Linked DNA regions of Homo sapiens: regions 1, 2 and 3 are each linked to region 4. Evidence: fine-mapped expression QTL. A gene starts in region 4. Each other region holds a variant in brackets. All regions are shown on one strand. Distances are between the middles of the regions. Region 1 has its middle 14 kb from the start of KCNN1. Region 2 has its middle 22 kb from the start of ARRDC2. Region 3 overlaps KCNN1 (potassium calcium-activated channel subfamily N member 1). Region 4 holds the start of ARRDC2 (arrestin domain containing 2).

Region 1 (7,284 bases), 55 kb before region 4:
ACCCTCTCTGGGCCTTTGTCCCCTCCAACAAAGCAATTTCCCTTTTATCCTTCCCTTTGGTTTCAAAAAGTGTAAGATAACAAAACACTTTGTTTTGTTATCAAAACACAATCAAAGGGGGGAAAGGTCAGCCCCCCAGGGGTCCCTGGCCCTGGGCTGCCCCCAGCGTCTCCCCCAACACTTCCCCAACTTGCCACGTTCGCTTCTTTTACTTATTCGCCATCGGAACGGTGGAACATTTGCGCCTCCGGCCTGGCTTCTGCTCAACCGGCCAGGAGCTCGGTCCCTGCGGATCATTTTCCCCAGGGGCATATTATTCCGGAAACGGGCTAAGCGGTCCCGGGTTGGGGACACGTCGGCTCCTGTGTTTTTAGTTTCGCTGGCCTAGGTGACCCCCCTGCAGAAGACGGCTGTGGATCTGCTGTGCCGTGTCTTGGAGGCATTTCTAGGGCGGCTAGCTGGGCAAAGGGTGGTGCTGTCCCTTTATTTGGAGCTAGGTAGCTCCTGGGGTGGTGCTGGGTCGGGAGCGGCCCTCTCCTCCCATCAGCTAGGACCAAGTTGCACCTGGCCCCTCATTCCCAGGGGCGGAGAGAGGAGAAGATGAAAGAGCAAGCAAGTTCACACCAGGGCTTGAGGGCAGTGAGAACAGTAAACCAGGGCGACGTGCCCAGAGAAGGGGCGACTCTAGGGAAGAGGCGACCTTGGATGGAGCCCTGAAGAGCCCTGTGGGAACAGGGGGTGAGGAGAGCCAGGGAAGGGCGATCCCGGCCCAAGAAACCGCAGATGCAAAGGCTCTGAGGCTGAACCGGTTAGGGGGAGAAGCTGGGCGTGTCCAGAATGTGGTGGGCGGTCCAGGGAGACCGCGGAGGGATTGGAACAAAGGGTGGGCGTTGTGGGGGGCAGACCGCGTCGGCCTGTGAGGAGTCAGGGTGCTCCTCTTGGTTCAAGAAGAGAAGGGAGGTGGGGGGAGGGCGGTCATGCGGGACAGGGACGTGACCTGTCACACGGGTGAGGACTGAAGTCTGTGGCTGCGTCAGGGAGAAGGACTGTGGCGGGGACAGGAGGAGCCGCGGGAGTGGGGAGGATTTTCGGGCTCCACTGGGCGATTGTGGGGTCCACGGGGCGTGGGGGAATCCCCTGATCATGGGTGTCCTTGTCACTTCTGCAGCCTGACTCTCCTTCACTGTGTCTGACTAAAGCATGGGTCGCAGCCTTCCCCAACAGGGGCGGGAAGTCCCCCCCGGGGAGGGTGTTGGGTGGCACCCCTTGTCCTCGGCTCCTGCGAACCCACCGGCTCTCTGCCTCCACAGTGCAGACCCGAAGGCCTCCTCCCCTTTGTTCTTTTTCCCTCCACACGGTCACGGTCACACCGGCGGCTCCCTCTGAGCGCATCTCACACACAATGGGGGTGGGGGGTGCGCTCCCAGTTTCCCCTCCTCTCAGTATCGGCGTCCCCGAGCCCCGCCCGCGCCACGGAATCCCGGCCTCCAGACCCCGCCCGGGAAGCTCGTTACCTTTCCAGAGAGGCTCCCCGCCGGGGGGCTGGGGAGGGGGGAGGGCTATTTTTAGAATGAATGGAAGAAAAGAGAGGAAAAAAAACAAAAAACAAAAACCAGAATGGAGGTTTGTAGAAGCCTCCCTGCTTCCAAGAGGAACCCCCCTCCCTGTCCCCTGCCTGAAGGTGGCTGAAGGTCCCCACCAAGGCTGAAGGTGGGTGGGGGTTCAGAGACGGGGCGGAGCAGGGGACTTCGAGGAGGAACACGGTGGTCTGAGCTGGAGCCACGCTTTCTGTTGGAGGGGGCAGCTGAAGGAGAACAGCAAGACATATCCGGCGGCCCTACGGACTCGGAGAGCTGGAGGGACCCCGGAGGTGGGCACTTGTCCGTTCGCTGAAGGGAAACTGAGGCTCAGAAAGGGGCTTGGCAGGGCCGAGGTCACGGAAAGGGCTTGCCCCTGGACTTCTCCCTCCCATCCCCTACCGAGCCAGACCCCGCGAGCCACATTGTTCTAAGGTGGCAGAGTGACCTTCACAACTCTGCCACCCAAGCCCGGGCCAGTCAGGCTCAAGAGGTTCCTAATCGCGCAGGTTGGGGGGAGGGTGTCACCAGCCCAACAATGAAATAGAGAAGTTTTCTGTGGTTTGGTTCTGGCCACCCAGGCTCCCCCTTCCTAGCTGGGACCTTCCAGCCCGGTCAACGTCGCCAGCTGCCCGAAGCCTCTGGGTCCCCCGATCCTCCCCAGTGGCGTGGTGGGGAGGCTTTAATTGTCTGCCTTCCTCTCTCCCTGACTCTCTTCTTTCCCGGAGCTGAGAGAGCGGCCCCCCAGAGTGAGGGGAGCAGCCCTGTTCCGTGCTGCTGGGACACTGGGCCCTGGCCAGGGGCTTCCGCTCTCCGGGCCTCAGTTTCCCCGTCTGTAAGATGAGCACCTTGGGCCAGAGGCGGCAGAGGGTCCTCCCATCTCTTTGACCGTCTTCTAAGATTTGCTGTCACGCCCCTGGGTGGAGGGGGGAGAGTGGGCTTTGGCGAGAGACCTGGAGGGGGATTCCATCCCTGCTTTAGAGGAGACGCCTTGCGGGGGGGAGGGCCCCGGCTGTGGCCGCGACGGACTGCCTCCCTCGGCCTGCGGGGTCCGCGCCCCCTCCCCGGGCGGCGGGGCGGGGCCCAGGTCGGCGGGGAGGGGGTCGGCTCTGCGGCGGCGCGCGCACACCCTCCCGGCTCACACGCCCTTGCCCGGCCGTGCACTTGTCTTCGCGCTCGGGCAGGGCGCAGGGACTCCGGCTGCGGCGGCCGACTCCGGCCGGTGAGTGGCAGTGGGGGGCACGGCGGGGAGCGTTCGGTCCCGGCGGCGGTCCCCTTCTCTTTGGTGGGCGGATTGGTCAAAGCTTGCCCGACTCCGGGAATTCAAAGGGGAGCTGCGGGAGGAGGGGGACATCCCTTCTTCAACCCCCGCCTCCAACACCGATCCCGGGAGTCAGCTCCTGACCCCACCCCCATGCCCTGTGAGGAGGGGGTTCCTGCTTCCAGGTCTGGGGAAGCGCAGACATCCCCCTCCCTCCGCGAGGTGAAGGTGGGGACATGGGGATCCTCCACGCCTGCACCCTCCTCAGTGGTGGGGGGAAAGCACCGCTGGTTCCCGTTGCCCCCTCCTCCCTCTCTGTCCCCTCAGGTTTCTCCCTTTCTCCTTGCGTTGTGGCGGGGATTCCCTGTGCTGGCCAGGCTGCGCAGTAGGAGGGAACCCCCCACCTGCCAGCCTACTGTGCGCTGGGCTCCGGGTTCCTGTTCTTTTCCCTAAGCTCCCTCCCTTCCCCCCTCCCCTCTCCCGGACAGGAGGAGGGGCTGAGGCCCAGAGAGGGTTACCACTCGCCCAAGGTCACCCAGCTGGGCTGGGGCAGAGCAGGTTTCTGGTCAGATCCACGAATCCCGGGACCCAGCTGGGGAGGTCAGCTTTGGGATCCTCTGCCCCCGCCGCCGTTTAACCCTGAGCGTGGGTTGCCAGGGCCCCAGAACTGGGGGGATTCCTTACTTTCTCCAAGTTTCTCCTCTGGCTAGAGACCCAGACAGGACTGAGCCAAGAAGCCCCGGCCTCGCTCTCTTCCGGGGCTCCCAGATCT[C/T]ACCTCCTCTTGTCCCCCGTGTGCCCCCGCTCCCAGCCTCCTCAGGCTGCCCAAGACCTCATCAAAGGAAATCCCTGGGGGGAGGGGGCTTATAGATGGGGAAGTCAAAGCTTCTGGAGCCACGGAGGAGATAATTTTTACTCCGACGCAGCAACCCGCTGAGTGACCTTGGACAAGGCCCTGCCCTCCCAAGGCTAGGGTCAGCACCAAGTCCCCCTGGCTGGAACAGGTGGCCCCTGAGCCATCCAAGGTGACCATTGCCCCGATCCCAGGTCCTGGTGAGAGAAAGGGCAGCTGGGGGTTTCCCCTTCAGTCCTGTTCTGGGGTCTGGCATTGCCCCTGCCCTCCATGGGGTGTCCTTTTCTGCCCTCTTCTCCAGGATCGGACTTGGGTACCATGTGCTTCTATAAGCCCTCTGCAGACAGCACTAAATAGATGGAGGGAGCACGCCAAGGGAGCTACAGGCTCCCAGGGCAGCTTCAGAGCTGGGGAGCAAGAGTTCAGCTGCTCTGCCAAGCGAGGTGGTTCACAACTGTAATCCCAACACTTTGGAAGGGCGAGGCAAGCTCAGGAGTTCGAGACCAGCCTGGGCAACGTACTGAAACCCTGTCTCTACAAAAAATTAAAAAAATTAGCCAGGTGTAGTGGTGCACACTTGTAGTCCAAGCTACTTGGGGGCCGAAGGTGGGAGGATCGCTTGAGCCCGGGAAGTCAAGGCTGCAGTGAGCCATGTTCATGCGACTGCACTCCAGCCTGGGTGACAAAATGTCACCTCCCTGAATGTCACCCACCTAGATCTCCCCATGGCGAAGGAACTAGGGGCAATGTGAGGGGGTGAGCAGGAACAGCATTGGGAAAGACAGATAAAGCATTCAGTGTCTAGCTTCTGGAGCCCAGTGAAAGGAGGAGTGGCCTTAGGGAGGGGACATGGAAGAGGTGGGGCTAGCCCAGGGCCCCATTGGAGTGATAAAGCCACTGTTCTTAAGCTTCCTGAAAGCTTAGGAGATGACCCAGCTCAGCAACACCAAGCCAGAGCGCAGATCTGCTGTAAAGACCATTGTACGTAATAGGCTGAAGCAGGTGAATCACCTCTGGCCAGGAGTTCAAGTCCAGCCTGGCCAACACAGCAAAACCCCATCTCTACTAAAAATACAAAAAGTAGCCGGGCATGGTGGCAGGCACCTGTAATCCCAGATGCTTGGGAGGCTGAGGCAGGAGAATTGTTTGAACCCTGGAGGCGGCAGTTGCAGTGAGCTGAGATCACATCACTACACTCCAGCCTGGGTGACAGAGCAAGACTCTGTCTCAAAAAAATAAAAAATAAGAAAGACCACTGTAGTCCGGGAGCTGTCTGCACCCTACTCTTTTGGGTCCCCGCCTCCACCCCGCACCCCCTGTCTGATCATTACAGATCTCAAAGGGACAGGAAAGGCAGCAGCAGCCACCCTCTCTCCCAGTCAAGTGGTCACCAGCAGGACTGAAGGGGACAGCCCCTTTGCAGTGGCTCGGCGAGGAGACCCCTGCACCCTAGGGTGAGTGAATCCCAGACTTGGGTCGCCTTTGGGGGTGGGGGTGGCTCAGGGGTTGGATAGAAAAATTGGTAACTGGGCAGGCTAGGTGGCTCACGCCTGTAATCCCAGCACTTTGGGAGGCTGAGGCAGGTGGATCACTTGAGGTCAGGAGTTTGAGGCCAGTTTGGCCGACATGGCGAAACCCCGTGTCTACTAAAAATACAAAAATTGCCCGGGGATGGTGGTGGGCACCTGCAATCCTAGCTACTTGGGAGGCTGAGGCAGGAGGACCACTTGAATCCGGGAGGCAGAGGTTGCAGTGAGCCAAGATCGCGCCACTGCACTCCAGCCTGGGCGACAGAGCAAAGCTCTGTTTCAAAAAAAAAAAAAAAAAGGTGACCTGAGGAAAAAGTGCCAGCTTTTGAAATAATAACAAGCTGGGTACAGTGGCGTGCACCTGTGGTCCTAGCTACTCGGAAGGCTAAGGTGGGAGTATCGAGTCCAGGAGTTCGAGGCTGCAGTGAGCTATGATCACGCTTGTGAATGGCCACTGCACTCCAGCCTAGGCGACAGAGCGAGACCCCCATCTCTTTAATTAAAAAAAAAAAAAAGAAAAAAGGCCAGACGTGGTGGCTTACGCTTGTAATCCCAGCACTTTGGGAGGCCAAGGCAGGCAGATCACCTGAGGTCAGGAGTTCGAGACCAGCCTGGCCAACAGGGTGAAACCCCCATCTCTACTAAAAATACAAAATTAGCCAGGCATGGTGCTGCATGCCTGTAATCCCAGCTACTTGGGAGGCTAAGGCAGGAGAATCACTTGAACCCAGGAGGCGGAAGTTGCAGTGAGCCGAGATTGTGCCATTGCACTCCAGCCTGGGCAACAAGAGTGAAACTCCATCTCCAAAAAAAAAAAAAAAAAGAAAGAAAGAAAAAAAATAATAATATAATTATTATTATATCATATATATCATGATGATGATAGCAAGGACTATGCTTTCTAGAGCCTCCGGGGAGTTACTGTCCACTTTCTTTGATCACTGGAGTTGGGGAAACTATTCAGAGAGGCCAGATGACCTAGAAGTGGGGTGTTGAGCCAGGTTGGAAGAGCTCTGTCCCACCACTCCCGCCCCCGCCCCCCACACACAGCCTCTACTTCCCGGCTCTCGTGGTCTCGCTGGAGACAGCCCCCAGGGTAGGCCAGCTCTGTGGAAGGCAGCTCCTGTGCTCCTTTCTCCAGTGAACTTTTTTTTTTTAGTTTTGTTTTGTTTTGTTTTGTTTGTTTGTTTTGAGACAGAGTCTGACTCTGTCGCCCAGGCTGGAGCGCAGTGGCATGATCTTGGCTCACTGCAACCTCCACCCTCCACCCCACCGGGTTCAAGCGATTCTCCTGCTTCAGCCTCCCAAGTAGCTGGGATTACAGGCATGCGTCACCACGCACAGCTAATTTTTGTGTTTTCAGTAGAGATGGGGTTTCCCCATGTTGGCCGGGCTGGTCTCGAACTCCTGACCTCAGGTGATCCACCTGTCTTGGCCTCCCAAAGTGCTGGGATTGCAGGCGTGAGCCACTGAGCCAGGCCTCCTTGGTGAACACTGACTGACATCCAGGGTCAGCACTAAGCTGCCCATGGGGGTGTGGAGAAAACAGAGGTGGTGGTCATTTAGTCAATCAACAAACACTGAGCAAGCTAGCTACTGTCTGCCAGGCCCTAGGCTGGATGCTGGGATGCAATAAGGACAAAGGCCAGCCCAGGTCAGCCCTTGTGGAATTTCATGGGGCATCAATTAAGCTTAAGTGTTTTGTGCTGGATACAGTGGCTGATGCCTGTGATCCCAGAACTTTGGGAGGCCAAGACAGGAGGATCACTTGAGCTCAGGAGCTTGAGACCAGCCTGGGCAATGTAGCAAGAACCCATCTCTACAATTTTTTTTTTTTTAAATTAACCAGTGGGGTGGTGCATGTGTGTGGTCCCAGCTACTCTGGAGGCTGAGATGGGGGGATCACTTGAGCCCAAGAGGTCGAGGATACAGTGGGCTATGATTGAACCACTGTACTGTAGTCTGGGTGACAGTGAGACTCTGTCTCAGAAAGAAAGCGAGAAAGAGAGAAAGGGGGCCAGGTGTGGTGGCTCATGCCTGTAATCCCAGCACTTTGGGAGGCCGAGG
Region 2 (7,284 bases), 22 kb after region 4:
CCGTGATTGCACCACTGCACTCCAGCAGAATGGGACCCTATCTCTAAAATAAATAAATAATATAAAAATAAATGCAGTATGCTAAATGAGAGTGCCTGCACAAGATGCAGAGAGCCAGGAATGGGGAGGTGGAAGACAAGGGCCCTCCCTCAGTAGCTGCTCAATTAGTGTATGATGGATTAATGAAGCTCAGAGTAAGACCTTGACCCACTGGTCCTGGACTCCTAAAGAGGAGTCTTCTGGCCTCATCCCTAGCCTCCTGGCCCCAGATCACACTGTGTGAGCAGCCCCTGGAGCCTGCTTGGCAGGGGAGGAACAGAAGTCCCTGCTCAGTTATTTGCACACTGGCTTCTCCCACGAAGTCCTAACATCGCAACTTCAAGTGCCCTTTCCTTTCAGACCCCAGGCCTGGAAAGGTCTTTATTTTGGCCACCTCAGCCCATTGCATGGAAGGGATATCCAAGGTCAGAAGCAATCCCGTCCCTGTGTCCAGGTTGAGCATGTCCCTCCTCTGCTCACACACCCTCCGTGGCTCCCTATTACCCTCAGGAGAAAGTCCAGCTCCTCAGCTCAGCAGTCACAGTCCAGCCTGAGTGTGGCAAGATCATTTTTCCTTTGTCTAATTCTCAGTCACTCTTTGGGTCTCATCTTGGTTATGTTTCCCAGTATTGACCATTGACACAGTCCCAGGACACACTAACTGCTGTCAGAAACCAAATGTTCATTGCATTAATCTTGTCAGAACATCAGGCTGAATACGACTTTTATTGTTGTTGTTAAGAGACTGTGTCTGGCTCTTTCACCCAGGCTGGAGTACAGTGGTGCAATCATGGTTCACTGCAGCCTCAACCTCCGGGCTCAAGCGATCCTCCCACCTTAGCCTCCCGAGTAGCTGGGACTACGCACACTACCACACTCAGCTAATTTATTTATTTTTTATAGAGATGAGGTCTCACTCTGTCGCCCAAGTTGGAGTGCAGTGGTACAGTCATGGCTCACGCAGCCTCGACCTCTGGGCTCATGCGATCCTCCTACCTCAGTCTCCTGAGTAGCTGGGACTACAGGCACACAGCACCACACCTGGCTAAGTTTTTTTTTTTTTAATTTTTTGTAGAGACAGGTCTCACCATGTTGACCAGCCTGGTCTCGAACTCCTGGACTCAAACGATTCCTCCCCACTCTGCCTCCCAACGTGTTGGATTACAGGCATGAGCCGCCACGCCCATTAGGATATGACTTTTTTTGTTTGTTGTTTTGTTTTTTGAGACGGAGTTTCGCTCTTGTTGCCCAGGCTGGAGTGCAATGGCACGATCTCAGCTCACTGCAACCTCCGCCTCCTGGGTTCAAGTGATTCTCCTGTCTCAGCCTCCCTAGTAGCTGGGATTACAGGCATGTGCCACCACACCCATCTAATTTTGTATTTATTTTTAATAGAGATGGGGTTTCTCCATGTTGATCAGGCTGGTCTCAAAGTCCCGACCTTGGCCTCCCAAAGTGCTGGGATTACAGGCGTGAGCCACCATGCCCGGTCTAGGATATGACTTTTACAGAGTAAAAAGACTCACAGTTTGCATTGCATGTGACCACTGTGGACCATTGACTATTAACAGAGTATTAAATTCAATATAAAGAACAGTGACTGCCCAAGAGCTTAGATCAGGAATAGGCAAACATTTTCTATAAAGGGCCAGATAGGAAATATTTGAAGCTTTGCCGGCTACACAGTCTCTTTTGCAATTACTCTACGCTGCGGCTGTTTGAAAGCATTCATATACACAAATAAGTGAGCATGGCTGTATCCCAGGAAAACTTTGTTCATGGACACTCAAGTGTGAATTTCATGTAATTTTCACATGTCATCAAATAGTCTTCCTCTGGTAGTTTTTCAGTCATTTTAAAATGTAGGCCAGGTATGGTGGTTCTTGCCTGTAATCCCAGTGCTTGGGGAAGCTGAAGTGAGAGGACCGTTTGAGGCCAGGAGTTCAAGACCAGCCTGGGCAACATAGGGAGACCCCCTCCTCCATCCTTACAAAAAGTTTTAAAAATTAGCTGGGATGCCTGTAGTCTCAGCTATTCAGTAGGCTGAGGTGGGAGGATCACTTAAGCCTGGGAGTTCGAAGCTGCAGTGAGCTATGATCCCGCCACTGCATTCTAGCTTGGGTGACTGAGAGAGATCTTGTCTCTAAAAAAAAGGAGGGAGCCAGGGCCGGTCATGGAGACCATCCTGGCCAACATGGTGAAACCCTGTCTCCACTGAAAATACAAGAAAGAAAGTAAAAAAAAAAAAAAACCCAAACTAGCTGGGCGTGGTGGCAGGCGCCTATAATCCCAGCTACTCGGGAGGGTGAGGCAGGAGAATCGCTTGAACCCAGGAGGTGGAGGTTGCAGTGAACCGAGATGAAGGCACTGCATTCCAGCCTGGGGGATAAGAGTGAAACCCATCTCAAAAAAAAAAAAAAAAAAAGGAGCCAGGAGCGGTGGCTCACACCTATAATCCCAGCAGCACTTTGGGAGGCTGGGGCAGGCGGATCACTTGAGACCAGGAGTTCTAGACCAGCCTGGCCAACATGGTGAAACCCTGTCTCTACTAAAAATACAGTAATTATCTGGGTGTGGTCCCAGCTACTCGGGAGGCTGAGGTGGGAGATTAGCTTGAACCTGGGAGGCAGAGGTTGCAGTGAGCCGAGATTACGCTGCTGCATTCCAGCCTGGGCGACAGAGTGAGACTCTGTCTCAAAAAAAAAAAAAAAAAAAAAAACGGAAAAAAAATTGAATACTGTTTTGGGGTCATGGTTAAAGCTGAAGTTTACCAACCCCTGATGGGTCATAAGTGTCATGATTTGTGTTTACAGAGTATCAGAACTTTGTTTAAAGTTACCAGCTGATAAAATATGAGGACAGGTTTATGGCTAACAGGGTTTCATCATTGACAGATAGCAAGTATCAGGATTAGTCTTTTTTCACAAAGTATCAGAACACAGCAAGCTCTGATGGCTAATCAGGTGTCAGAACCTGGGTTTAAGTCCAACCCTGCCTTGGGGCCCACGGCACCGCGGTAACCACCAACTACTGTCCACTCTCAGGATACTGTTTACTAAGTATCGAGTGACAGGCTGATGGCAAAGTATCGGGTCATGGATGTCACACTGTGAGTTGGGCACTGTGACAGCGTCTCTAGATGCCAGCTGTTTACAGTGACAGGAGACTGGCTGTTTACAGGGGATGAGTCAGCCCCACTTCCAGATACCCAAGTCCAGATGGCGGGTAGGATTGGCACCTCTCCAGGTGTTTACAGGGTACTGAGGTCCTGGCAAGCTGGGCTTCTCTCCTGCGGCCACCTCTAGCCAGGGTGGGGAATGAG[T/A]CCCCTGAAGGCTGTGGGACCCATGATCCTGGTTAGATTCTCCTTCTGCTTGTCCCTGGCTGTGCTGCCTCAGGCACATTACTTAACCTTTCTGGGCCTCTGCCACCTCATCTGTAAAATGGGCATGATGGTGAAGCCAGGTTGCCAGATAAAATATAGGCTACTCAGCTAAATGTGAAGTTCAGATCAATATTGAATTTGGTTTTACTGTAAGTATATCCCATGCAACATTTGGGATATACTTATACTAAAAAAAAATTATTCATTGATGCTATGGTTTGAATGGTCCCCCAAAGTTCATATGTTTGAAACTTAATCCTCAAAGCAGTCCTTTCAACCTTGTCAACCTGTCGGCGCGGCCTCTGGTGCAGTGGCGGCGGCTCCTGTTCCTGCCGCAGCTCTCTCCCCTTCTTACCTCCCCACCAGATCCCGGAGATCGCCCGCCATGGCTTTACTTACTGCGGCCGCCCGGCTCTTGGGAACCAAGAATGCATCTTGTCTTGTTCTTGCAGCCCAGCATGCCAGTGCTTCCTCCATGAATTTGAAAGACATATTGGCTGACCTCATACCTAAGGAGCAGGCCAGAATTAAGACCTTCAGGCAGCAACATGGCAAGAAGGTGGTGGGCCAAATCACTGTGGACATGATGTATGGTGGCATGAGAGGCATGAAGGGATTGGTCTATGAAACATCAGTTCTTGATCCTGATGAGGGCATCCGTTTCTGAGGCTTTAGTATCCCTGAATGCCAGAAACTGCTACCCAAGGCTAAGGGTGGGGAAGAACCCCTGCCTGAGGGCTTATTTTGGCTGCTGGTAACTGGATGTATCCCAACAGAGGAACAGGTATCTTGGCTCTCAAAAGAGTGGGCAAAGAGGGCAGCTCTGCCTTCCCATGTGGTCACCATGCTGGACAACTTTCCCACCAATCTACACCCCATGTCTCAGCTCAGTGCAGCTGTTACAGCCCTCAACAGTGAAAGTAACTTTGCCCAAGCATATGCACGGGGTATCAGCCGAACCAAGTACTGGGAGTTGATTTATGAAGACTCTGTGGATCTAATCACAAAGCTACCTTGTGTCGCAGCAAAGATCTACCGAAATCTCTATGGAGAAGGCAGTGGTATTGGGGCCATTGACTCTAACCTGGACTGGTCTCACAGTTTCACCAACATGTTAGGCTATACTGATCATCAGTTCCCTGAGCTCATGCACCTGTACCTCACTATCCACAGTGACCATGAGGGCGGCAATGTAAGTGCCCATACCAGCCACTTGGTGGGCAGTGGCCTTTCAGACCCTTACCTGTCCTTTGCAGCAGCCATGAACGGGCTGGCAGGGCCTCTCCATGGACTGGCAAATCAGGAAGTGCTTGTCTGGCTAACACAGCTGCAGAAGGAAGTTGGCAAAGATGTGTCAGATGAGAAGTTATGAGACTACATCTGGAACACACTCAACTCAGGACGGGCTGTTCCAGGCTATGGCCATGCAGTACTAAGGAAGACTGATCCACGATATACCTGTCAGCGAGAGTTTGCTCTGAAACACCTGCCTAATGACCCCATGTTTAAGTTGGTTGCTCAGCTATGCAAGATTGTGCCCAATGTCCTCTTAGAGCAGGGTAAGGCCAAGAATCCTTGGCCCAATGTAGATGCTCACAGTGGGGTGCTGCTCCAGTATTATGGCATGATGGAGATGAATTACTACACAGTCCTGTTTGGGGTGTCACGAGCATTGGGTGTACTGGCACAGCTCATCTGGAGCCGAGCCTTAGGCTTCCCTCTAGAAAGGCCCAAGTCCATGAGCACAGAGGGTCTGATGAAGTTTGTGGACTCTAAGTCAGGGTAAAACTGGAGACTGGGGGAAAGTGACTACCAGAAAGTGAGGAAGCCTAAATAAAAAGTATACTTTTGTTTCAGGGGGCCTTTAAAGACTTAAGATTAAATTATATCTGAGGCACTGATAATATGTTTGAGGTTAAAATATAAATTAAGACTTTAAAAGATGAAAAATGGTCCCTTCTTCCCTAATCAGCTCCTTTCCCCTGCCTGGTATGAGTTGCCCATCACAGGCATGGTCCTGGAGGATGACCAGGACTAATGCATGTGGTATGAGTAGGTTTGGCCCCCTCACTATCTCTAGAGTGAGAATCTGGCTCCTGTTTCCATGGCTCAAAGCCGGTTGCAGAGAATCTGCAGTCACTTCGGAGCTTTAGCTTCTTCTCTGCCAAGCCCTCAATAAGCCAGCAAACCAGGACTCTGCCCCTTCTGTTTCCATAGGAATCATGTTGGATAGTCAGCTGTACCAAGCCCCTTGGCCTTCCCATGCACACAAACACCTCCTAGCAAGACCTGTTGGTTAGCTGGACATGCTTTGGCAATTTTTTTATACTGCCAAGTGACCATAAAGGCATGGCATTTGTTGTGACTGGCACCCAATGTTTGATTTTTTTTTTAAACTATCCAATTAAAATTAAGGTCTGGGAGTGTTCTGTTTCCCATTACTTTAATACTCACCCCCCTCCCAGACTTTCTACACCTGTTTCACCTCAGGCTGAGGATGTTCTGGACCTCCCCCTCTTAGTCCCTACTAGAGACCTCTCAACAGATCTGTGGGCCCAGTCATTGGGTTTTATCAGTGCTTAATGTGAACTAAGTTTTTTACTTCCAACAGAATACAAGCCACTACCTTCTGACCTCCCCACCCCCCACCAACCCCCAGCTTTTAATATGCTGTGGGGCATAGAACAGGGACTCCGGAATGACCAGCATGATATTTTCAGAGTCTTGTCCCTGGGGTATTAGCACCTCTTTTTGAACAGAGAATTGATTCAAGATTGGACATGGTCTCCTCTGATTATCAGGTACTGGGGCTGAGGGCATTAAAAATAGTAAGCCTCCTTCCTCGTCCCCTGCCTCAAGAAATTGCCTCCTTATTTATCAACATCTTTTTCCTCCCTTTCCCTGAGAGCTCACAGTACAATGTTTGTTTCAGAAGCCCCATTTGCACAGGTTTTCAGCAACTCAGAATGCTCTACTTCTTTTTCTTTGAGAAAGGATTGAGATACGCTCCTGCTGTGCCCCCATCTTTCCTCCAAACTCCTGCCTGTGTTTGTGTGGATACCCAGTCCCAGAACCACACTGTTGAGTTGGACACACTGTAAACCCCTGGCTAACTGTCAAGTCATGATGCAGACTTCAGGTTGTTCTGTATAAAATGCAAAATAAATGTTTTAATTAACAATGAAAAAAAAAATCCTCAAAGCAATAGTGTTGAGAGGTGGGACCTTTAAGAGGTGATTCGATCACTGGAGTGGGTTCGTCATTGTGGGAATGGATTTGTTATAAAAGTGAGATTGGAGGCCAGGCATGGTGGCTCACACCTGTAATCCCAGCACTTTGAGAGGCTGAGGTGGGTGGATCACTTGAGGTCAGGAGGTTGAGACCAGCTTGGCCAACATGGTGAAACCCTGTCTCTACTAAAAATACAAAAATGAGCTGGGCGCGGTGGCGGACGCCTGTAATCCCAGCTACCTGGGAAGCTGAGGCAGGAGAATTGCTTGAGCCTAGGAGGCAGAGGTTGTAGTGAACCAAGATCGCGCCATTGCACTCCAGCCTGGGGTACAGAGTGAGACTCTGTCTCAAAAAAAAAAAAAAAAAAAAAAAAAAAAGTGAGCTTGGAGGCCGGGCACAGTGGCTCATGTCTGTAATCCCAGCACTTTGGGAGGCCAAGGCAAGCAGATCACCTGAGGTCAGGAGTTCAAGACCAGCCTGGCCAACATAGTGAAAGCCCGCCTCTACTAAAAAAAAAAAAAAAAAAAATTACCCAGGCATGGTGGCACATGCCTTTAATCCTAGTTACTCAGGAGGCTGAGGCAGGAGAATTGTCTGAGCCAGGGAGGCGGAGGTTGCAATGAGCCGAGATC
Region 3 (7,284 bases), 22 kb before region 4:
GCTCCGATGTTTCCTCCCAAGACTTAAATGGATCTGGGGTGGGCTAGGTGCGGTGGTGGTGCCTGTGATCCCAGCTACTCGGGAGCCTGAGGCAGGAGAATCGCTTGAACCTGGGACGCGGAGGTTGCAGTGAGCTGAGATTGCGCCACTGCACTCCAGTCAAAAAAAAAAAAGACAAATAAATGGGTCTGGGATGAAGGAAAACCGGCCGTGCCTTTGGGACCTCCAAGCAGGAGGGAGTCTGTTGTAAATACCCCTAGGAGGTGGTGGACCATCAACCCGATTTACAGAGAGGGAAACTGAGGCTCTGGGGGACAAAGGGACTTGCCCGGAGCCTTGAGTCCTGGCAGTCTCAGAGGCAGGAGGGGCTCCGCCAGGCCTGGGGTGTGAGGGTGCCTTATCTGGGAGAGGGTCTCCCTGCCATGCGCCTAGCTGGTGGAGGCCCTGGAGGGGTCCCTGGCTGGACCCCTGCTTGCCCTCAGCACCCCATCCTCATCCCTCCACCCAGCCCCCACCCCCCATACTCCCACGGGCCCTGCCTGGGCATGAGGCCTGGCTCTCAGGGATGAAAGGCCCAGTTTCTCTGGCTGTTAAGGCTTCCAGGGCTCTCCTTGGGCTCTTGATGTTCCCCCATGCAGCTCTCACACCCCTGATGGGTGGGGTCAGAACTAGGGTTAGGGGTATGGGGTGCCCCTCGTCAGGTATCCCTGAGGTCCAAGCTGGGTCCTTGCAGGGCTCTGGGGGGGTGGGGCACGGGGCAGGGCCGGCAGGCAGCCAATCCTAAATTCTGAGCCTGGCGACAATGCTTGAAGCCCCCTTGCCTGCCTCGCTCTGACCCACCCCCGCCTCCCGCATGTCCCCCAGCCGTGCTCCTGGGTGGTCCCGCGGCACCCCCCACCATCGCTCCGTCTGGATCTGGGGCTCACCCACCCACCGACTAGAGGGCACCCCCCCGCCCCTCCTGCCCTCTGGGGGTCAGGCAGCTTGGGGCTCAGATGTTTTGGTGTAAGATGGGGGTCAGTCAGCTGGGCACCGTGGCTCATGCCTGTAATCCCAGCACTTTGGGAGGCCGAGGCGGGTGGATTACCAGGTCAGGAGATTGAGACCATCCTGGCTAACATGGTGAAACCCTGTCTCTACTAAAAATACAAAAAAAAAAAATTAGATGGGCATGGTGGCGGGCGCGTGTAGTCCCAGCTACTCGGGAGGCTGAAGCAGGAGAATCGCTTGAACCCGGGAGGTGTAGGTTGCAGTGAGCCAAGATCATGCCACTACACTCCAGCCTGGGCAACAGAGAGAGATATTGTCTCAAAAAAAAAAAAAGATAGGGTCAGTCCCTGGGCCTTTACCCAGCAAGTGTCCTAGAAGCCCAGACTGGAGGTGCCTGGAGTGGCATTCGACTTCCGCGGGAGTGAAGACCCCCAAATGCCAATATTTGGGGAGCCCCCATCTCCTTCCCTCTGGAGCCTGACCCCAGCCCTATCCTTGGGCTGTGTCACCCACTGTGCCTGGCACAGGCCTCCCCTGAAGATCCTGCTCTATCCAGGCCACTTCCTCGGTGCTACCCCAGTTGGCCTCTGACCTTGAACACCCCAGAGGCTGGCTTGGGGCTCAGGTGATCTAAGCCCTGGGAAGGAGTGGGTTAGCTGGAAGCCAGGTCAGAGGGGGCCCAGTCTCCAGAAAAAGGCCAAGGGGATTTGGGGACTGAGAGCTGAGTGGGAACAGATCCTAGAGCCACCCCCAGACCCAGAGAGCCAAGCCCTCGGCCCGCTAGCATGGCCACAGGCAGAACCTCTTTGCAGCCCCTCTGGCCGAAGTCCCAAGCCTGGCTGTGACCAGGACTAAGTTCTGTCAGTCTTGGGGCCTGTCTCCCTGGGTCCCAAATATAGCCCCAGGCATCTCCCCAGTGCCAAAGCCGATGCCCCTCTCTTCCCAACCCCCAGATGCAACATAGGCTGAGTTGGGGGACTCATGCTGTCCTCCAGTCTATGTCCTTCCTATATGGACGTCCCTTCTTCACTCGAGCCCCAGGTGGTGATCCTCCAGCCTCCCACCTCCTCCAGTCCTCCTCCCTCCTTGGGGCCTTGCTGGCTGAGAAAGTTCTTCCTGGTGTCTGTCCTGAATTCTTGCCTCCACCTCCTGCTGCTTCTGGTGCTGTGGTCACCCATCCCCCTGTCTGTGTGTGTCTGTCGTTGGGAGGGGGATTGTATGTTCATACAACCTCACCTGGGCCCCTCTCTGCCCCATCCAGGGAAGCAGCTTGGGGGGGCAGGCAAAGGGAATGTGGAAGGGCTGTAGCGGGGGAGAGGGTGCGCCTGTCCTGTACCCACAGGACATAGCCCCAACGCAGCGAGGTGGACTCAGGGCCCTCCAGCCCTGGCGCTGCCCCAGGGGGTGTGATGGAGGCAAAGGGGATGGTATAGACTGAGCCCTCCCTCTTCCCACTCTGGCTCCCCCAGGTACCACGACAAGCAGGAAGTGACCAGCAACTTCCTGGGGGCCATGTGGCTGATTTCCATCACCTTCCTCTCCATTGGCTACGGCGACATGGTGCCCCACACCTACTGCGGGAAGGGTGTGTGCCTGCTCACTGGCATCATGGTAAGGGTGAGGGTCCATGTGTATGATCCTGGGAGGTCCAGCCAGCTGCCCGCTCCACCAGCCCTTGCATACCCCTTGCTGACAGGGTGCTCATCCCATCACGAGCTGTGCCTGATCAGCGTCCCTCCATCTGTCAGTCCACCCCTCCCCTGCTCTGCTCTTTTCCTCTGACGTCACGTGGAAGCCACACCCACAGGCTTCCTGGGACATCTCCATGCGGTCCTTCCAGGCCTAGATATGCAGCTCCCACCATGCCTGCCCAGTAAGAAGCTGCGGTCCACTCTGACCAGAGAGTCACTGTCACCCCTTTATTCTCTACAGCCTGATTTATTCACAGCCTTTGGATCCAGGGCAAGGGGCTTGATGCTGATGTGCCTTAGTTTCCTCAGCTGTGACCAGCGCTACTTCCTCTGCTTTGCAAGGGCTAAGTCGGTTATTTATGTGAGAATCCCAGAACTGTGAATGCCATGGACATGCTATAACTACCTGCTGGGGGCCGGGCGTGGTGGCTCATGCCTGTAATCCCAGCACTTTGGGAGGCCAAGGTGGGCAGATCACCTGAGGTTGGGAGTTTGAGATCAGCCTGTGACCAACATGGAGAAACCCTGTCTCTACTAAAAATACAAAAATAGCCGGGAGTGGTGGCTCACACCTGTAATCCCAGTACTTTGGGAGGCCAAGGCGGGTGGATCACGAGGTCAGGAGTTCAAGACCAGCCTGGCCAACGTGGTGAGACCCAGTCTGTACTAAAAATACAAAATTAGCCGGGCGTGGTGGTGGGTGCCTGTAATCCCAGCTACTAGGGAGGCTGAGGCATGAGAATTGCTTGAACCCAGGAGGCAGAGGTTGTGGTGAGCGGAGATCACGTCATTGCACTCCAGCCTGGGCAACCAGAGTGAACTAAGTCTCAAAAAAAAAAAAAAGAAAAAAGAAACCTGCTGGGCTGTGTCCTCTGCAGCCCAAACTCCCTTCCTTAGCTGACTTTCGGGGTGTTCCCTGAGTTTTTCGTGACAGTGGGCGCAGGCAGCACCCCGTCTCCCCGAAGGATTCTCAAGTCTGCCGTGGGTGCCTGTGAACATCCTTTCACACTCACTGCTTTCTCTTTTCCCTAATTCAGTCATCGGGGTCCCTGTCCATCCCCTCTTTCCAGAGCCTTCTTTCTCTCCAGACATGTTTTATGCCCATGCCAACAAACGCTTTTCCATGTTTTATTTTTATGTTTTTATAAAGATGGGGTCTCACTATGTTGCCCAGGCTGGTCATGAACTCCTGGGCTCAAGTGATCCTCCTGCTTGGGCCTCCCAAGGTGCTGGAGTTACAGGCCTAAGCAACTGCACCTGGCCCATGCCTGACTTT[G/T]TTTTTTTCCTCATTGAGATGGAGTCTCACTCTGTTGCCCAGCCTGGAGTGCAACGGCACGATCCCAGCTCACTGCAACCTCCGCCTCCCGGGTTCAAGCCATTCTCCTGCCTCAGCTTCCTGAGTAGCTGGAATTACAGGCGCCTGCCACCAGGCTCGGCTAATTTTTCTATTTTTAGTATAGACAGGGTTTCATCATGCTGGCCAGTCTGGTCTTGAACTCCCAACCTCAGATAATCCACCTGCCTCAGCCTCCCAAGGTGCTGGGATTACAGGCATGACGCCACCACGCTGGCCCTTTTTTTCTTTTTTTTTTTTGAGATAGAGTCTCGCTCTGTCGCCCAGGCTGGAATGCAGTGGCGTGATCTCAGCTCACTGCAACCTTCCCCTCCCAGGTTCAAGCGATTCTCCTGCTTCAGCCTCCTGAGTAGCTGGGATGGCAGGCACCTGCCACCAGGCCCAGCTAATTTTTGTATTTTTAGTACAGACAGGGTTTCACCATGTCGACCAGGCTGGTCTCGAACTCTTGACCTCAGGTGATCCACCCACCTTGGCCTCCCAAAGTGCTGGGATTACAGGTGCAAGCCACTGCACCTGGTCCGTGTCTGCTTTTTTGCTGGCAGCCCAGCATGGGTCCCTCCCTGTAGCATCTGTGTGGTGCATCATGCTGTTGCAGAGCCGTTGTCCATTCCTTTTCCTTGCTGTCTAGTATTCTAGGTGGAGGTTTCCAGCAAGTCACTCTGTCCCAGTTGACAGGGATTTTCCTGAGAACAGGCTTCTGGGTCCTCTCAAAACCTTTGTCCTGGCCTGGAAACCGAGACAGGGTTTCCTCCGGGAGCCCCTGCTTGTGCTCTAGGCCAACCCTGCTCAGGCTCAGGGTGTTGGCATCTAAACCTGCCTGGGGCTGGGCATGGTAATGGCTCATGCCTGTAATCCCAGCACTTTGGGAGGCCGAGGTGGGTGGATCATTTGAGGCCAGGTGTCCGAGACCAGCCTGGGCAACATAGTGAGACCCCATATCGCTACCAAAAAAAAAAAAAAAAAAAAACAGGGCCAGGCGCAGTGGCTTACACCTGTACTCCCAGCACTTTGGGAGGCCAAGGCGGGTGGATCACCTGTCAGGAGTTCGAGACCAGCCTGACCAACATGGTGAAACCCCCCCTTTACTAAACAAACACACACACACACACACACAATTAGCGGGATGTGGTGGTGCACGCTTCTAGTTCCAGCTACTCAGGAGGCTGAGGCAGGAGAATCGCTTGAACCTGGGAAGTGGAGGTTGCAGTCAGCTGAGATTGTGCCACTGCACTCCAGCCTGGGCGACAGAGCGAGACTCCATCTCAAAAAAAAAAAAAAAAAAAAAAAGAATCGTCCTACCTCCTGGAGTTGTTGGGGGTCGAATGAGCTAATGTGTGGGACATGGTTCCCTCTGACATTTGATGAATAGGAAACGAGTAGACCTGAAGTCAGTGAGCTCAGCAGATGGAATCCACTCACACTGCTGGCTCAGAGAATGGGGAGGCTGCAATCTGGGCAGGCTTCCTGGAGGAGGGAGTGACCTCAAGACAGGACGCTGATGTGCCCCCTCTGCCCTGCACACAGGGAGCTGGCTGTACCGCGCTCGTGGTGGCTGTGGTGGCTCGGAAGCTGGAGCTCACCAAGGCTGAGAAGCACGTGCACAACTTCATGATGGACACTCAGCTCACCAAGCGGGTGAGGACCGCGGTTCCCATGGAGGCCGCCTCCTGGCCTTGTCAGCGAGCGTAGAACTTCCCTGCTTTCCCTCTGTACGTGCCGGGCATGCTCATGTGCCCATGGGTTACCATGCAGCCCCGTGTCAAGACTGTGCTGGCTTTGGGAGGCCAAGGCAGGTGGATCACCTAAGGCCAGGAGTTCGAGACCAGCCTGGCCAACATGGCAAAATCCCATCTCTACTAAAAATACAAAAATTAGCCTGGCATGGTGACGGACGCCTGTAGTCCCATCCACTTGGGAGTCTGAGGCAGGAGAATCGCTTGAGCCTGGGAAGCAGAGGCTGCAATAAGCCAAGATGGCACCACTGCACTCGAACCTGGGTGACAGAGCAAGACTCCGTTTAAAAAAAAAAAAAAAAGGACTGTGCTTGGCTCTGCCACCACGCACCCATCTGTGAGTAATGCACAGAGAGACATCGTGGCATCAACCCTTGTGCCCAGTCACGTCCAGCCATGAGCATTCAGTAAGAGGCTTGAGCCAGACCGCCATATGCAATTTGAGAGCTGCCTGACCCTAGCGGGTTGACTGCTCTGTACCTCAGCTTCCCCATATAGAAAATCAGGGAAATAAAAACACATGCCGATTCACTGAGTTAACATCTGCATCATGGCCGGGCGCGGTGGCTCACGCCTGTAATCCCAGCACTTTAGGAGGCCGAGGCGGGCGGATCACTTGAGGTCAGGAGTTCAAAACCAGCCTGGCCAACGTGATGAAACCCCATCTCTAGTAAAAATACAAAAATTAGCTGAGCGTGATCGCAGGCGCCTGTAATCCCAGCTACTAGGGAGAGTGAGGCAGAAGAATCACTTGAACCTGAGAGGTGGAGGTCGCAGTGAGGCAAGATCATGCCACTGCATTCCAGTCTGGGCCACAGAGCCTCAAAAAACAAACAAACAAACAAACAAACAAAAAACATTAAAAACATTTGCATGGTGCATAGAAGGGGCCTGGCCCATCATGAGTGATGTGTGTTAGGTATACACACACTGCACAGATGTTGTTGTACAAGCATGGCCCTGCCTTATAGCCCAGGGACCCTGAGAGGCATTTCCAGAAGTTTCTAGAGGTTTCTGGAAGATTCTAGACATTTCTGGAGCCTTTTGGAATTTCGCGCCAACCCTGAGGAATTGTTCTTTTTCTGGCCCCAGGTAAAAAACGCCGCTGCTAACGTTCTCAGGGAGACGTGGCTCATCTACAAACATACCAGGCTGGTGAAGAAGCCAGACCAAGCCCGGGTTCGGAAACACCAGCGTAAGTTCCTCCAAGCCATCCATCAGTAAGTCCAGCACCTTTCCAGCTCACGTTTCTGTGTCCACATGGCGCGGAGGCAGCCCTCGCAGCTCTGTGTGGCCTCTTCACGGCTCCCTGCCAGGGACGGGTGGTCAGTTGGTTGGGGCCTGCATCTTCTGAGCTGGGTGGATGGGAGGATCTTCAGAGGGAGGCAGATGATGGGGTCTGCTAAATCATGGACACGACTCAGTAAGTGGCAGGATGTATATTTTATTCTCTGGAATAACCAGGATAATTCTTACCCTTTAGACTTTGAAGCGATTTCCTCTTTTTGCTTTG
Region 4 (7,284 bases):
GCACTCCAGCCTGGGCAACAGAGTGAGATCCTGTCTCAAAAAAAAAAAGAAAAGCAAATTTAAAAAAAATTTTTTTTTTTTAATTGATCATTCTTGGGTGTTTCTTGCAGAGGGGGATTTGGCAGGGTCATAGGACAATAGTGGAGGGAAGGTCAGCAGATAAACAGGTGAACAAAGGTCTCTGGTTTTCCTAGGCAGAGTGTTTGTGTCCCTGGGTACTTGAGATTAGGGAGTGGTGATGACTCTTAACGAGCATGCTGCCTTCAAGCATCTGTTTAACAAAGCACATCTTGCACCACCCTTAATCCATTTAACCCTGAGTGGACACAGCACATGTTTCAGAGAGCACAGGGTTGGGGGTAGGGTCACCGATCAACAGGATCACAAAGCAGAAGAATTTTTCTTAGTACAGAACAAAATGAAAAGTCTCCCATGTCTACCTCTTTCTACACAGACACGGCAACCATCCGATTTCTCAATCTTTTCCCCACCTTTCCCCCCTTTCTATTCCACAAAACCGCCATTGTCATCATGGCCCGTTCTCAATGAGCTGTTGGGTACACCTCCCAGACGGGGTGGTGGCCGGGCAGAGGGGCTCCTCACTTCCCAGTAGGGGCGGCCGGGCAGAGGTGCCCCCTCACCTCCCGGACGGGGCGGCTGGCCGGGTGGGGGGCTGACCCCCCGACCTCCCTCCCGGACGGGGCGGCTGGCCGGGCAGGGGGCTGACCCCCCCACCTCCCTCCCGGATGGGGCGGCTGGCTGGGTGGGGGGCTGACCCCCCGCCTCCCTCCCAGACGGGGCGACTGGCTTGGCGGGGGCTGACCCCCCACCTCCCTCCTGGACGGGGTGGCTGCCGGGCGGAGAAGCTCCTCACTTCCCAGACGGGGTGGCAGCCGGGCGGAGGGGCTCCTCACTTCTCAGACGGGGCGGCTGCCGGGCGGAGGGGCTCCTCACTTCTCAGACGGGGCGGCCGGGCAGAGACGCTCCTCACCTCCCAGACGGGGTCGCGGCCGGGCCGAGGCTCTCCTCACATCCCAGACGGGGCGGCGGGGCAGAGGCGCTCCCCACATCTCAGACGATGGGCGGCCGGGCAGAGACGCTCCTCACTTCGTAGATGGGATGGCGGCCGGGAAGAGGCGCTCCTCACTTCCTAGGTGGGATGGCGGCCGGGCAGAGACGCTCCTCACTTTCCAGACTGGGCAGCCAGGCAGAGGGGCTCCTCACATCCCAGACGATGGGCGGTCAGGCAGAGACGCTCCTCACTTCCCAGACGGGGTGGCGGCCGGGCAGAGGCTGCAATCTCGGCACTTTGGGAGGCCAAGGCAGGCGGCTGGGAGGTGGAGGTTGTAGCGAGCCGAGATCACGCCACTGCACTCCAGCCTGGGCACCATTGAGCACTGAGTTAACGAGACTCTGTCTGCAATCCCGGCACCTCGGGAGGCTGAGGCTGGTGGATCACTCGAGGTTAGGAGCTGGAGACCAGCCGGGCCAACACAGCGAAACCCCTTCTCCACCAAAAAAACCAGTCAGGCGTGGCGGCGCGCGCCTGCAATCGCAGGCACTCGGCAGGCTGAGACAGGAGAATCAGGCAGGGAGGTTGCAGTGAGCCGAGATGGCAGCAGCACAGTCCAGCTTCTGCTCGGCATGAGAGGGAGACCGTGGAAAGAGAGGGAGAGGGAGACCAAGGGGAGAGGGAGAGGGAGAGGGAGCTTAAAAATTGTTAAATTGTTATACATTTAAGGAAAAAACAGTGACACTGGAGGGGCGAGGCCAGTGGAGGTGCTGTGTGACCTCGGGCAGAGCCCCACCCATCTCTGGGCCTTTGGGGTCCGTCTGCGAAATGAATTGAGGGAGGCGCTGGCTCAGTAGTCCCTTCAGGGTTACCTAATCCCGCTTCTCCTCCCGGACTTAACGGCCTACTGTCTCCCCTCTAGTATCCATTGAAACCTGGCCTAAGGTCCCAGACCTTCCTTTCAACTCCAAAGACCCATCCTCCCAGGCAGCCTTCCAGGCTGATCACTGTGCCTCCAACTCCGTCGTTCCTGTTCCGATCCCCATCACGGGCTGAGGGTGACCGTGTTTGTTTATGACCGCCCCCTCCACCCACACACCTCACTGAGGTGGTGGAAGTCTCCTGAGCCAGGCTCAGAGGCGGACAGTCACGGCAGGGGATGGGTTCAGCGGCAGCGCATTACGCTGCCACGAGAGGGCGCCAGCGTCCCGCAGACGACGCAGAGGCAACTCCCGCTGGAGAAACTCCATGCGACTTTTCTTTGGGGAAACTGAAGCCCAGAGAGAGGTCACGCCGTCCCGTGGCCACACCGCAGCTGTGGACCTGGGGGTGCCCGAGCGTCCCCTGCATTCAGCTCTGTGGCGGGACGGGGGCTGAGGATGACTGGAGCAGGCACAAGGGCTGCGGGGAAGGTAGGGTTTGCCAGAGGCTGAAAATTGGGAAGGGAACATCATTTCGTAGGTACCGCTCCTGGGCGAATGCGCCGAGGCGCGACCGAGTGACGGTATGTCAAGAGCAGGTTGATGACCCGGGAGCGAGGCTCTTGGAGGAGTCCAGCTGGGGCTGCACGATGATCCATGCACAACCTTCTGAGGTCAGGACTGATTTTTACTTTCTCCCGGCTCTACAGAGGTGGAAACTGAGGCTCCAAGAGGTTGTCATTTGCCCAGAGCCACCAGCTAAGCGGGACTTGAATCAGGAAAGGGGTGCAGCAGGCACCAGTGTGGAGGGCGGTCCCACCCACCTCCTCCACTTCTCCCTTTGCATAGCGGGGGAAACAGGCCTGGAACAGTCATAGGCTCTCTGGCCCTCAACTGGGGCGAGAGTCCCCCGCCCCAAATCGGGCTGGACATGCCTCGAGTCACGTCAACGAGGGGCGGCTGGTGAGTGATTAAGCCGAGAGGCTGAAGGCTCTGCTAGGTGACCTCAGGCCTGGGCCCTGCCTCTGCACCTCTTTTTTTCCTCTTTACCCCCGGGGTCCGCGAGAGACCAGCTCTGGCAGCCTAAGGGCTTCAGTTTCTCCCCGGGGTCCGCGAGGGAAGGGGGCAGCCGGCGGTGAGCAGGGGCGTTTGTTATTTTGCTCCACGCCTGGGCAGAGCCACGCCCCTTGTCGCGCTATTGGTGGAGTCCCTTCCCGGGGCGGGGAAGAGACGGTGACCCCACCCCCCCCCGCCCTGCCGTATAAAAGCGGCGCCGACGCACGGCGCGGGGATTTTCTGCTCCGGTTGGTGAGCGCGCCTGCGCGTTGACGGCGATTTTGCGTTCTGAGGCTGCAGCGTCGGCATCTTGAGCTGCCGGTTCGCGAGTTCGAGGCCAGGTTCCGCCTGTCGTGGGTTCGCACCCCGGACGCGATGCTATTCGACAAGGTGAAAGCGTTCTCGGTGCAGTTGGACGGCGCGACCGCGGGCGTCGAGCCCGTGTTTAGCGGCGGCCAGGCCGTGGCGGGCCGGGTGCTGCTGGAGCTGTCAAGCGCCGCGCGTGTGGGTGCCCTGAGGCTGCGCGCGCGGGGCCGCGCCCACGTGCACTGGACCGAGTCGCGCAGCGCGGGCTCGAGCACGGCTTACACGCAGAGCTACAGTGAACGCGTGGAGGTCGTGAGCCACCGCGCCACGCTCCTGGCGCCAGGTACGGATGGAGGACCCCTGCTCCAACACCAGTTGTGTGCCTCCCACCACCTGGACGGCGGTACCTCCGTCAGCCCTGGGACCCCAGCGCAACCGCTCAGTCGCCTCCTTTTTCTCCTACCTGCAGATACCGGGGAGACCACGACGCTGCCTCCTGGGCGCCATGAGTTCCTGTTCAGCTTCCAGCTGCCCCCGTAAGTCCTCTGGGGTGCAGGGTTGCCCTAAGCCTGCAGCCCCTTCCAGATTGGTACCTCCAATACTGGATATCTGGGCACCTCTGAGCCCCAAGACTCTCCCCCTGGGAGGCCCCCGGAGTGTCTGTGTCTCCTTCTCCCTGCCTGCTTGTCTCTGTATCTTGTCCCCTGAAGTCCCGTCCCTCCACCCTAGGACCCTGGTGACATCCTTCGAGGGCAAACACGGTAGTGTCCGCTACTGTATCAAGGCCACCCTGCACCGGCCCTGGGTCCCAGCACGCCGGGCAAGGAAGGTGTTCACTGTCATCGAGCCTGTGGACATCAACACGCCAGCCCTGCTGGTGAGTGGCCACCCTTGGGGAGGTAGGTTGGGAGTATTGTAGGAAGGGGCCTGCCTGGCTGCTGGGCGACACCAACCAATAAGATGGAGGTCATAGGTGGGCCCTGGCAGGGAGGGAGGCAGGTGTGGGAATGCGTGTGGAATCCACTGGGATCTGCACCCATTTGCCGTGTGACTCTGGGCAAGTGTCTTGAAGCCCTCTCTGAGCCTCAGATGCCTCTTCTGTGAAATAGACCAGAGCTAGGGCTTACCAAGTGTGAATTACACACCAAACACTTGGCTTATACATTTCATTTCTGGCTTTATAAGATGGGTTGTGTTCCTGGCTCTATTTAACGGATAGTTCCTGGATTGTTAAAAAGAAACCAAGCCCTGCCCAAAGTCCTCCCTCAGCTGGGGGTGGTTTGGAAGCTCCACAGCGACTGTGGTTTGCACAAAGTGACTCATCCATGTCACTTTCCTCTACACCGACAGGCACCTCAAGCGGGGGCTCGGGAAAAGGTTGCCCGATCCTGGTACTGTAACCGTGGCCTAGTCTCCCTTTCGGCCAAGATCGACCGCAAGGGCTACACCCCAGGTAGCAGGCGGACCGGACTGGGTTGGGACGGGGGCTGGTGTTGGGGTTGCAGGAGGGGAAACTGAGGCCCCACTGCTCCTTGCTGCAGGAGAGGTCATCCCTGTCTTTGCCGAGATCGACAACGGCTCCACACGTCCTGTGCTGCCTCGGGCAGCCGTGGTGCAGACACAGACGTTCATGGCCCGAGGCGCCCGAAAGCAGAAACGGGCAGTGGTGGCCAGCCTCGCGGGCGAGCCGGTGGGCCCCGGGCAGCGGGCGCTGTGGCAGGGCCGGGCACTGCGGATCCCCCCAGTGGGTCCTTCCATCCTGCACTGCCGCGTTCTACACGTGGACTACGCACTCAAGGTAGGGCATCCTGCTGGCCCTGGGGGACAGTGCCTACATTCACCCTGTATTCCCTCAGACTGGGGGAAGCTGAGGCCTCAGTCTCCCCAGGCATAGGAGGGAGGTGGGGGTTGGGGAGGCTGCCTGGGCACCCTCCCTTATGGTTCCTTCCTCCAGGTCTGTGTGGATATCCCAGGAACGTCCAAGCTGCTGCTGGAGCTGCCACTGGTGATCGGCACCATTCCCTTGCACCCTTTTGGCAGCCGTTCCTCCAGCGTGGGCAGCCACGCCAGCTTCCTGCTGGACTGGAGGCTGGGGGCCTTGCCGGAGCGGCCTGAGGGTAAGCTCCCACCCTGCTTGCATGCAGAGGGTGGGTGGATACACGGAGAGGTGGATGCCGGGTCAACTCTCTCACCACGAGTCCCCCGGAATCCCAACCAAAGGACATACAGCCTGGCAGCCCCAGAGCTGGCACAAGCCAGCTCCTGGCCCCTGGTCCCTTGGAGCAGGGCTCTCTCCTGCCAACCTCACCCACCCTGTCTCTCGCTTCCAGCTCCTCCTGAGTACTCGGAGGTGGTAGCCGACACTGAGGAGGCAGCCTTGGGGCAGAGCCCCTTCCCGCTTCCGCAGGACCCCGACATGAGCCTTGAAGGCCCGTTCTTCGCCTACATCCAAGAGTTCCGCTACCGCCCGCCACCCCTGTACTCTGAGGTGAGCTCAGGGGTCTGAGAACCACCCATGCCTCTCTGGGCCCTGGGAGCCTTGATGGGGTGGCAGACATAGTAGATGGGTTTTTTTTGTTTTTTTGTTTTTTTAGACAGGGTCTTGCTCTGTCACCCAGGCTGGAGTGCAGTGGCATAATCATAGCTCACTGCAGCCTCGACCTCCCGGGCTCAAGCAATCCTTTCGCCTCAGCCTCTTGAGTAGCTGGGACTACAGGCACACGCCACCACATCCTGCTAATTTTTGTGTTTTGTTTTGTTTTGCTTTGCTTTTTGAGATGGAGTTTCAGTCTTGTCACCCAGGCTGGAGTGCAATGGTGCGATCTCAGCTCACTTCAACTTCCGCATCCCTGGTAGAGCGATTCTCCTGCCTCAGCCTTCCGAGTAGCTGGGATTACAGGTGTTAGCCACCACACGTGGCTAATTTTTGTATTTTTAGTAGAGACGGGGTTTCACCATGTTGGTCAGGCTGGTCTTGAACTCCTGACCTCAGGTGATGGCCTGCCTCGGCATCCCAAAGTGCTGGGATTATATGCGTGAGCTACCACGCCCGGCCAATTTTTGTATTTTTTGTAGAAATGTGGTCTCACTGTGTTGCCCAGGCTGGTCTTGAACTCCTGGGCTCAAATGATCCTCCCATCTTGGCCTCCCCAAAGTGCTGGGATTACAGGCGTCAGCCACTGTGCCCGGCTGGCAGAGGATTTTAATTGTTGACAGAATTTCGCTACATACAGTCGGCCCTCTGCGTTAGCTGGTTTGGAATCTGCAGATTCAACCAAACATGGGTCAGAGACATTTGAAAAATAAATACATACATGGATAATACAGATTAAAAATATGATAGGCTGGGTGCGGTGGCTCATGCCTGTAATCCCAGCACTTTGAGAGGCCAAGATGGGAGGACTGCTTGAGGCCAGAAGTATAAGACCAACCTGGGTAACATAGCAAGACCCCCATCTCTACTGCAAATAATACAAAATTACCCAGGCTTGGTGGAGCCCATCTATGATTGGGAGGCTGAGGCAGGAGGATCGCTTGAGCCCAGGAGTTTGAGGCTGCAGTGAGCAATGATTGTGCTACTACATACTCCAGTCTGGGAGACAAAACAAGACCTCATCTCAATACTACTACTAATAGTAATAATGCAGTATAACAGTGATTAAATAGCATTTATATTTTGTGTGTGTATATGTGTATATATATATATATATATTTTTTTTTTTTTTTTTTTTTTGAGATGGAGTCTTGCTGTGTCACCTAGGCTGGAGTGAAGTGGCACAATCTCGGCTCACTGCAATCTCCACCTCCCGGGTTCAAGCAATTCTCCCTGTCTTAGCCTCCCGAGTAGCTGGGATTACAGGCATCCACCACCATGCCCAGCTAATTTTTGTATTTTTTAGTAGAGACGGGGTTTTGCCATGTTGGCCAGGCTGGTCTAGAATTCCTGACCTCAGGTGATCTGCCTGCCTTGACCTCCCAGAATGCTGGGAT

The links. PIP is the estimated chance that this variant, and not a neighbour inherited with it, causes the effect. A credible set is the group of variants that fine-mapping cannot tell apart.
Region 1: its variant is the best candidate, but not a certain one, in a credible set for the expression of ARRDC2 in whole blood (TOPMed, PIP 0.52).
Region 2: its variant is the best candidate, but not a certain one, in a credible set for the expression of ARRDC2 in thyroid (GTEx, PIP 0.56).
Region 3: its variant is the best candidate, but not a certain one, in a credible set for the expression of ARRDC2 in whole blood (INTERVAL, PIP 0.66).

What each region holds. Positions count from the first base shown.
Region 1 is chr19:17,949,540-17,956,823 of GRCh38, forward strand. It overlaps a transcript of KCNN1 not described here. Among named protein-coding and RNA genes, the nearest start is that of KCNN1, 14 kb to the right of the region's middle. RefSeq lists enhancers at 1,668-2,286, 2,287-2,904, 2,905-3,522 and a silencer at 2,668-2,717. The variant C/T (reference allele first, on the strand shown) is at 3,611.
Region 2 is chr19:18,026,823-18,034,106 of GRCh38, forward strand. It overlaps the pseudogene CSP3. Among named protein-coding and RNA genes, the nearest start is that of ARRDC2, 22 kb to the left of the region's middle. The variant T/A (reference allele first, on the strand shown) is at 3,362.
Region 3 is chr19:17,982,853-17,990,136 of GRCh38, forward strand. KCNN1 (potassium calcium-activated channel subfamily N member 1) reads left to right here. Exons shown (of 10, transcript NM_001386974.1): 5 at 2,460-2,601; 6 at 5,563-5,673; 7 at 6,864-6,991. Among named protein-coding and RNA genes, the nearest start is that of KCNN1, 19 kb to the left of the region's middle. RefSeq lists enhancers at 1,528-2,209, 5,176-5,677, 5,678-6,177. The variant G/T (reference allele first, on the strand shown) is at 3,958.
Region 4 is chr19:18,004,948-18,012,231 of GRCh38, forward strand. ARRDC2 (arrestin domain containing 2) reads left to right here and starts at 3,223. Exons shown (of 8, transcript NM_015683.2): 1 at 3,223-3,637; 2 at 3,764-3,830; 3 at 4,024-4,171; 4 at 4,645-4,747; 5 at 4,836-5,092; 6 at 5,249-5,411; 7 at 5,625-5,782. The coding sequence starts at 3,364. RefSeq lists an enhancer at 3,277-3,496.